2 linked regions of the Homo sapiens genome follow. The protein of the gene in region 2 interacts with the protein of the main gene of each other region in a pairwise test. Each region holds a gene or a part of one and is shown on either strand. Other genes may lie near its edges. The genes, in order: ACSF3 and RAB28.

What was found.
Region 1: the proteins of RAB28 (region 2) and ACSF3 interact in binary tests that used the Homo sapiens proteins (3 or more experiments, as listed by UniProt).

Annotation. Positions count from the first base shown.
Region 1 is NC_000016.10:89,091,780-89,095,698, reverse strand, and holds the start of ACSF3 (malonate--CoA ligase ACSF3, mitochondrial isoform 1 precursor), read right to left. Parts: upstream 1,848-3,919; 5' UTR 1,703-1,847; intron 1-1,702. UniProt on the Homo sapiens protein: Catalyzes the initial reaction in intramitochondrial fatty acid synthesis, by activating malonate and methylmalonate, but not acetate, into their respective CoA thioester. May have some preference toward very-long-chain substrates.
Region 2 is NC_000004.12:13,477,462-13,481,380, forward strand, and holds part of RAB28 (ras-related protein Rab-28), read right to left. Parts: intron 2,066-3,919; coding exon 1,969-2,065; intron 1-1,968.

The sequences.
Region 1 (3,919 bases), on a different chromosome or scaffold from region 2:
GATGAGAATGACACTCGCATTCAAATGAAGGGCTGCTTTCAACATGAATAAAACGACACCTGACCTGTTCACCACCACACCTGACACCCCCGCCCCCCCAGACCTTGTGTTTGAAGTGGATGCCGGCACTTCCTCCTGTCGGCTGCCCCGATGAGAGCGTGGGGCAGAGGAGGGCTGTGCTCGGCCTGCGGGGCAGGATGCGTTTCAGCATCACACCTGTGGTTTGGAGGGTTATTTTCAAAATTACATTTTTAAGTAACAGACATTCACATTGCATTCATGAGCAGTACATTCAAATAAAAAAAACCAAAAAGGAAAAATACACTTGAAACCCATATCCATTTTAGGAAGAAAAATACTATTTTAAAAATGCCATCTGGAAAGGTGACACTTACAACTATCCCAAGCCCACAGTTTAATCCGCCATTTCTGTCTGCCTTGAGGAGATGGTTCAGAGCCAAAGGAGCAAGAGCAAGGGAAGCCTCATCTTATGTCCTCCAACACCTGCGGAGAGGACACCAGCCTGAGCCAGGCTTCACGCTACAAAGCTCGCAGGGTCCCCAGGGTCCACCGGTAGTAACACCCGTGCTCCTGGGTCCACCATGTGAACCCCCTCCTCAACAAGGTCTCAGCCTTGGGCCCTAACACGAATGTCTGTCCTCCCAGGATGGGAAAGCAACAACTATGCCCCAGACACAATTCGTGTTCCTATCTCTAAACGTGTTCCCTTTCTAGCAAATTCCTAATCATTCTTCCAAGCCCAGTTCAAATATCACCTCTTCTTTTTCAGTTTTATTATTTATTGAGACAGTGTCTTGCTCTGCCACCTAGGCTGGAGTGCAATGGTGCTGTCATGGCTCACTGCAGCCTCCGATTCCTGGGCTCAAGAAATCCTCGTGCCTCAGCCTAACCAGTAGCTGGAAGTGCAGGTGTACGCCACCACACCCAGCTAATTTTTACATTTTTTTGTAGAGATAGGGGTCTCACCATGTTGCCCAGGCTGGCTTTGAACTCCTGGCCACAAGTGATCCTCCTGCCTCTGCTGCCCAAAGCGCTGGGATTACAGGCATGAGCCACTGCACCTGGCCTGCCTGGTGGAATTTAGACTCAGGACAGCAACATCAACTCCTGACTGCACCGGGCCTCACCCCTTTAAACCTTCCCTCTCTCCAGGGAATGGGCTGCCTGCAGTACCTTCCAAATACTTCACGGCCGGCCGCACGTCTCCATTGCTTGCTCATAGATCTACATGCCCTCAGGGGCTAGGCCGGCTGTGAACCTGTGCCCCACGCGCCCAGCAAGGTGCACGCAGCAAACAACTAAAACGGGGAGTACTTCAAGGGTGACTTCTGAAGCCCAATGAGAAATGGAAGTGAATTTATTCCAAACACAACCAAAGACGATTCGTTCTGAGGATGCCTGAACACGGACCCCGCCGGCTCGACGGTATCACCGGGCCCGGCGTCCGCACAGCTTCTCTCCCCGCACCCCGCGCGGGGGCCCCGCTCCCCACCGGACACGAGAGGCTCGGCGTCCCGGGAAGGCCGACGCCCGGCCCCAGGCGGCTCGCGGGGAAGCGACCGCGCCACGGGCCACGGCTCAAGCCCAGCTGCGACCCAGGGGCGGGCGCCGGAGCCCGCGCCCCCGAGAGCTCTGCGCCCGGCCGACCCCGCCGCGGTCCCGTGGGCCCCGCCGCCCGCACCTACGAGACGGCCGCGGCCACGGGGCAGGATCTGCCTCGCCACAACTCTTCCTCGTCCTCCGCCGCGCGCGCGCCGGGGTCGGGCCGGGTTCCGGCCGGGTCCCGCGGGGTCGTGAGTCGGGCCGGACCAGTTCCGGCGCCCAACAGCTTCCCCGGCGCGGCGCGTCCGTCGCCCAAGCGCGTCCCCCCGGCGCGGCGCCGTGGCGGCGGGTTCCGGGCGCGCGTGTTCCCCTGTCCCGCCCGTCCCGTCGTGGCGGGGTCGGGGCCGCGGGCGTCTCGTGAGCCGTGGCCGAGGCAAGGCGCCGTGGTCTCCGCTAGCCCAGGGCTGCCCAGATCAGAACGGCGCGCGGGACCACTCCCAACGCGGATTGCTGGGCCTCGCCCCGTCCTCCCAAAAGGGGCTCTCTGGGCTTTGCGGCTGGGGGTCTGCACGCTGAGCTCCTGGGTGATTTTATTATTATTATTATTGTTGTTACTTTTTCTTATTATTATTATTATTTTGAGATGGAGTCTCGCTCTGTCGCCCAGACTAGAGTGCAGTGGTGTGATCTCGGCTCACCGCAACCTCCGCCTCCCGGGTTCAAGTGATTCTCCTGCCTCAACCTCCCAATTAGCTGGGACTACAGGCGCCCGCCATCATGCCTGTCTAATTTTTGTATTTCTTGGGTGATTTTAAACGGACCGCATTTGAGAATCTCTCCTCGAAGGGACTTGGGAACCAGGATACGAATATGAAGCGAGACTGTTGGATGGACAGTGGCGGAAAACATTTAAAGCCAAACACAAAGTCCAGTTGGCTGAAATTTGAGGGTTTTTCCCCTAAAATGAATACTAATAACACAAAGACATGTACTGGCAAACAGTAGTACAAATTATCTGCAGAACCGTCCTGGTGTGATGGCTCACGCCTGTAATCCCAGCACTTTGGGAGGCCGAGGTAGGCAGATCACGAGGTCAGGAGTTCAAGACCAGCCTGACCAACATGGTGAAACCCTGTCTCTCCTAAAAATACAAAAATTAGCCGGGAGTGGTGGCAGGTGCCTGTAATCCCAGTTACTCGGGAGGCTGAGGCAGGAGAATCTCTTGAGCCTGGGAGGTGGCGACTGCAGTGAGCTGAGATTGCGCCACTGCACTCCAGCCTGGGCAGCAGAGTGAGACTGTCTCAAAAAAAAAAAAAAATTATCTGCAGAACCTTGCACAGTTTTTTTGTAAGTGTATTATTTTCCATGCCCATCTTCCTCTCTTGTGATGATTGCTGGGGCAGCAGTTGTGTCCTTGGAAAGCTCAGGAAAGGGCACTTCAGGAGCCCGAGGATGGTTTTCCTGGGAGGAAGGAGCTGGATCTGGGGGAAGTTTGTAACACAGAGCGTGGGAGAACAAACCCAAACTTCTAGTGCCTCTGGTTGCCACCCTGCTAGGTATCATGCAGAAAAAGCAAGTCCAACCCTCTGCCACTGGGACAGGCTTGATCTGGTGTCAGAATTCTGTCTGCTTCCAGGACTCAGCAGGCTGAATGGTGTTTCCGACGAGGGCAGTAGGAAGAGTAAGGAGGGCGTCTAACATCAGGATTCAGCCCCAGGACGTGTGTGCGCAAATTTCTATCCCTGGGAAGTTGAAGAGCTCAGGCTGCGTCACCCACCTAGAGACAGGACTTGGGACAGGGTGACAGCTCCCGTGGTCCTTGGCCATGGCTCTGTGAGGGTGGCAGTGGGGGGAGGGTGCAGTCTCCGAGAAATGGCCCAGTCATCCTATGAGCAGGGGTCCCATCTGTGCCTCGGCTCTGGTCAGCATCATAGTGGCAGGTGGGAAGCAGGAGCAGTCAGGGATTAGCAGACATTGGAGGACAGCCTCTAGCCAGAGAGACGTGGGCTGAAACAACCAGCAGAACAACTGCAGGCAGCCAGGCTGTGCAGAGTGAAGAGACCCCCAAAACCACCCCCTGTTAATACCCTCAGGGAGACAAGGGAAGCGACAGCCCCCATGAGTCCAGAGCGAGATGCCCCGAGAAAGAGCGTTCCAGTAACATAAAGGGGGGCTGGAGGGGTCAGAATACAACAGCCTGAGTAAAAACCCTAAGGGAAGGGCTAAAGGACGTCTCCTAGAAATAGAACAGAAAGACCGAGAGATGAAAAACAGGAGAGGAAAGATAAAAAAATCAGTGGGCTCAGGCAGGCATCCAATATGCTAAATACGGTAGTTTCAGGAAGGGAGGGCAGAG
Region 2 (3,919 bases):
ATGTGACACTTATAATGAATGTACATTAAAGTATATAAAGGATAATTATAAACCTTGTAATTTATTCACCTCATTTCTTAATATACCTATTAATTATATAAAAACAAAATACATTAAAATATTTTTTCTTATTGAAATTTCTACCATAAGTTTGAGTCTGTTAAGTAGCATAAAACCAACTGCCTTAAAAAAAAAATAGAAGTTTTTTTCTGGAACTTTGCCATCAAAATAAAAACTTAATTAGGAAAATTAAAATATACATTCATTAGTATACATGCCCTAATGTCATTTTTTAACCTAATTACTAAGTCTAAAATATTATACTATAAATCTCGATTTCAAGAATATCAAATATTTTTTACAAAGTAATCAAAATTTTTAAATTGGTAGTGCTGGGCCACAGGTCAGAAATCATCATATCACCTGTATAAAATGTCTGAAAACCAGTCTTTGTTTTTAATATTTGAGTAGGTACTTGTTTATTTAAGCTTTTCAACTAAAAAATGAGAAATAATAAAGTAATGAGACAAGAAGTTGGTGGCTTTTCAAATTAAGCATCAAAACAAAATAGCTAATAATGAAATGCCACATTTGAGATTCTCTGTGTACAACTGGCATCTGTGAAAAAAACTCCTGCAAAAATAAGCTTCCAGCATCTGTATTATGTGATCTGTGTATGTATTCAGCTAGTGACTGCTGTTAAGTATTCTGAATGCAGCATAGATTATCCGTAAGAGTGAGAATAATAAAATTAAAATGACATTTTCAGTTTTGGATACAATAAAAGAAAATACAAATGAAACAAAGTACGCATATGTTTCTCCTTAAACCTCTTGCTGAACAATAACCCAGTAATGGAAAAATTGGAATTCTTTTTTTTCTCATGGGATATCTCCTAATCTATTTTTCACTGGTAGCCAAATACAAACTATCACAAAATATAGCAGAGTATATTACTAAGGAGATAAGAAGAATACCTCCATTACCAAGAGTTTTCATTACCTACTCTAAAACTTTCATGGGGAGTTGTCTGATAGATGGGGTGTCTGAGAGGTTAACATATTTCAATAATAATTGGAATGTATTAAACCCCTTCCCACTGTATCACTCACATTTCAGTACATGAATCTGACATTACACTTGCAACCATTTTCTCCAAATGTGCTTCCTCACAGAGGAGAGAGATGGATGGTTTATAAAGTCAATCAAGATAAACTGCTTTTAATAAAATACTTTAAACATATAATTTAACCATTGAAATTGAAAGGACAGCATTTTAAAGCCCCAATTGTTCAGAAACTAACTTAAAACATAAACCACTCTTTCTTTGTTATTATTTCCCCGTATTTCCCACAAAATGTGCTGCAACTGGCATCTAAATAGTTTCTTTGCATGGTGAAGTGAAACATCTTGAATGCTCAAACTGTATTTTTATGAGTGCCTAGGGACCCTAAATTTTAGTGGTCTATTAAATGCCAGCAATTTCATGCTGCCTTGCATAAAACAGCATTCACATATTAGAGCACAGAAGTTCCATAGCTACATTATACTTCTGTTCCAACTTTAAACAAAAAACTAAAACAGAGGCAAATCAAAATAATATTTTAAAAAATAATCCTTCCCAATCTTTTCACATTTTGTTAATACAATATCTGTTGACAAATGTACAGCACTTAATTTTTTAAAAGCTTTTCACAATTTTATAAGCAACCATTGTTTATCCTCAAAAAATGTATAGTAGCCAAAAACAGGGAAGGAGTGGGAGAGTATATAAACTTTTTCTTATACCCATGGACAATATGCTTTCATGATAGATTGTGATGAAAGTTAACATCCCTAAGATAAATTTACTGTTTATATACATCTTCATGTAGAAGCAGCCCCAAAATTTTACACATTTCTTTCTTATGCCACTTATTGTTAAGATTTTTTTATAATCTTCTACGTTAAGACTTTTTAGTCTCTTACCTGGCAATGTTATCCTTCTCAAAAAGAAATCCAGTCCTATAGTTTGTTTGTACTGTTTCCCAAAAGTTTCTTGAGCAAAACACGTAGTTAAGGAGGTCTAAAAAATTGATGCACAGAATGTCAAAATTAATTCATTAAAGAAATGTAATCATAAGACCACTATAAATCTTAAGCAATCTTAACATGTATATTGCAATTAATCCAACAAGCAAATTTAAGCAGTTCTAATCAGTTACAAGGAGGGGAGAGACTTAACACCACCAGGTAAATTTTACTTGCCAGCAGCTATCGGTAGGGACAACGAACTAATGAGTTAGATCTCTTTAAATCCCCTGCTTGTCAAGATCCTTTTCCTTGCTGAAAATTAGAATTTGAGAGTTATCAACAGAAAAAAAAACTAAAAAATAAATAAATAAAGATCTGAATTATTTTAAAACATAATTAAAGATCTAATCTAACTTAGATCAGCTTCTGAGGTTAAATATTCTGAGGGTAGCTGAGCACTAAGCTAATAATAAGAAGCATTCATTAAGGAGGGAGAAATCTGCTTACAGAATTTTTCTTTTTCCCACAAGAAAAGCACCGTATGTAATTTTTCTTTATTTTTAAAGATGCTAAATGAAAATGACCCTAAAGAAAGACTGTGACAATATGTACCTCTTAAATAAACGTATTTTTAAGATTAATATAAAGCAGACAAAATGAATATTTTCCATCCAAGAACCATAATGCCAAGAAGTCACAAGCTATCATAACCAGAACAGATATACATTTGTTTTTTAATAGAAACTGAAAGTTTTAGTCAAAAACTCTGGAGTTTTCTTTTTAAAGTACCATTTCTTATCAAAGCAAAAGAATAATTATTCTAGTAACAACTGAATAACAATAACTTAACAAATTCTTAAACATTTTAAATGCACTATTTTTATTTATAAACTTCCTCCAAAAAAGAGAAAGGCAACTTCACTAAGCTTTTATGCTCTTCAAGACAGACTCCCTACTTTAAGAGAAAATAGCCGTTTTTTATTTTAAAAGTTAAAATTACATGTCAACTCTTAAAATAATGAAAACTAAGATAAATTTCCAAGATAGCTTATTACAGTTCCTTATGACATAAGCAGTACAATAGTGCAAAAGAAAATTTGGCCAAACTTCAATTCCTTTTAGCAAGATCATCTAAAATTCCTTTTACACAGAACCATATTTTTCACACAAATGGCAATTTGGACACCATAACTCCAAATATTTTTGGGTTTAAATACCCAGCATTTGTAATAAATTTCGAAGATAATTGGCCAAGTATTTGTTGAGCACTACCATATAAAGGGTATTCTGCTAGACATCTAGAAACAAACACATTTGTTATATTTTTGACACATGTAACACTATCAAAACTGAGAGATCAGAATTGAAAAGATAGGTATTTCTTTTTACAGACCATTGTTTCTCATCTACACTATATTATTCTACTGATCTTATCTAACTTAGACCACAAAATCATCTTTGAAGAGGTTCAGAATTCTAGAAAAAAATAACTATCACTACTTATACTATTACAGATATTTCAAAATATTTAATAGACTGATGGTTGAAATACTTAAAGGTCAAAGAGAAACTGAAGGCATGTGTAACATTCACGTAATGTCATTTGAGATAATTTTTCACTTTAAAGAATCTCAGAGTTCAATATTTTCATGTTAAGGAATATTCAGAAAAATTCTAAGAAAGTTTCTTTTCCTGAAAAAGTGACTTCTAGATTTTGAAAGCCCTGCTTTCACACTTTTGAGGCAAACATAAAGCTAGGATTTTCAACTGGAATCGAGTGTAAACTGTCAAAAATACAGGTTACTGGGAACATACAGAGTATTAAAGTAAGTTCTTACTATATCATCTCCCGATGTCTTGAGATAAAAATTGAACAGAGAATCAACTGAATCAGTGGGGGTCACTT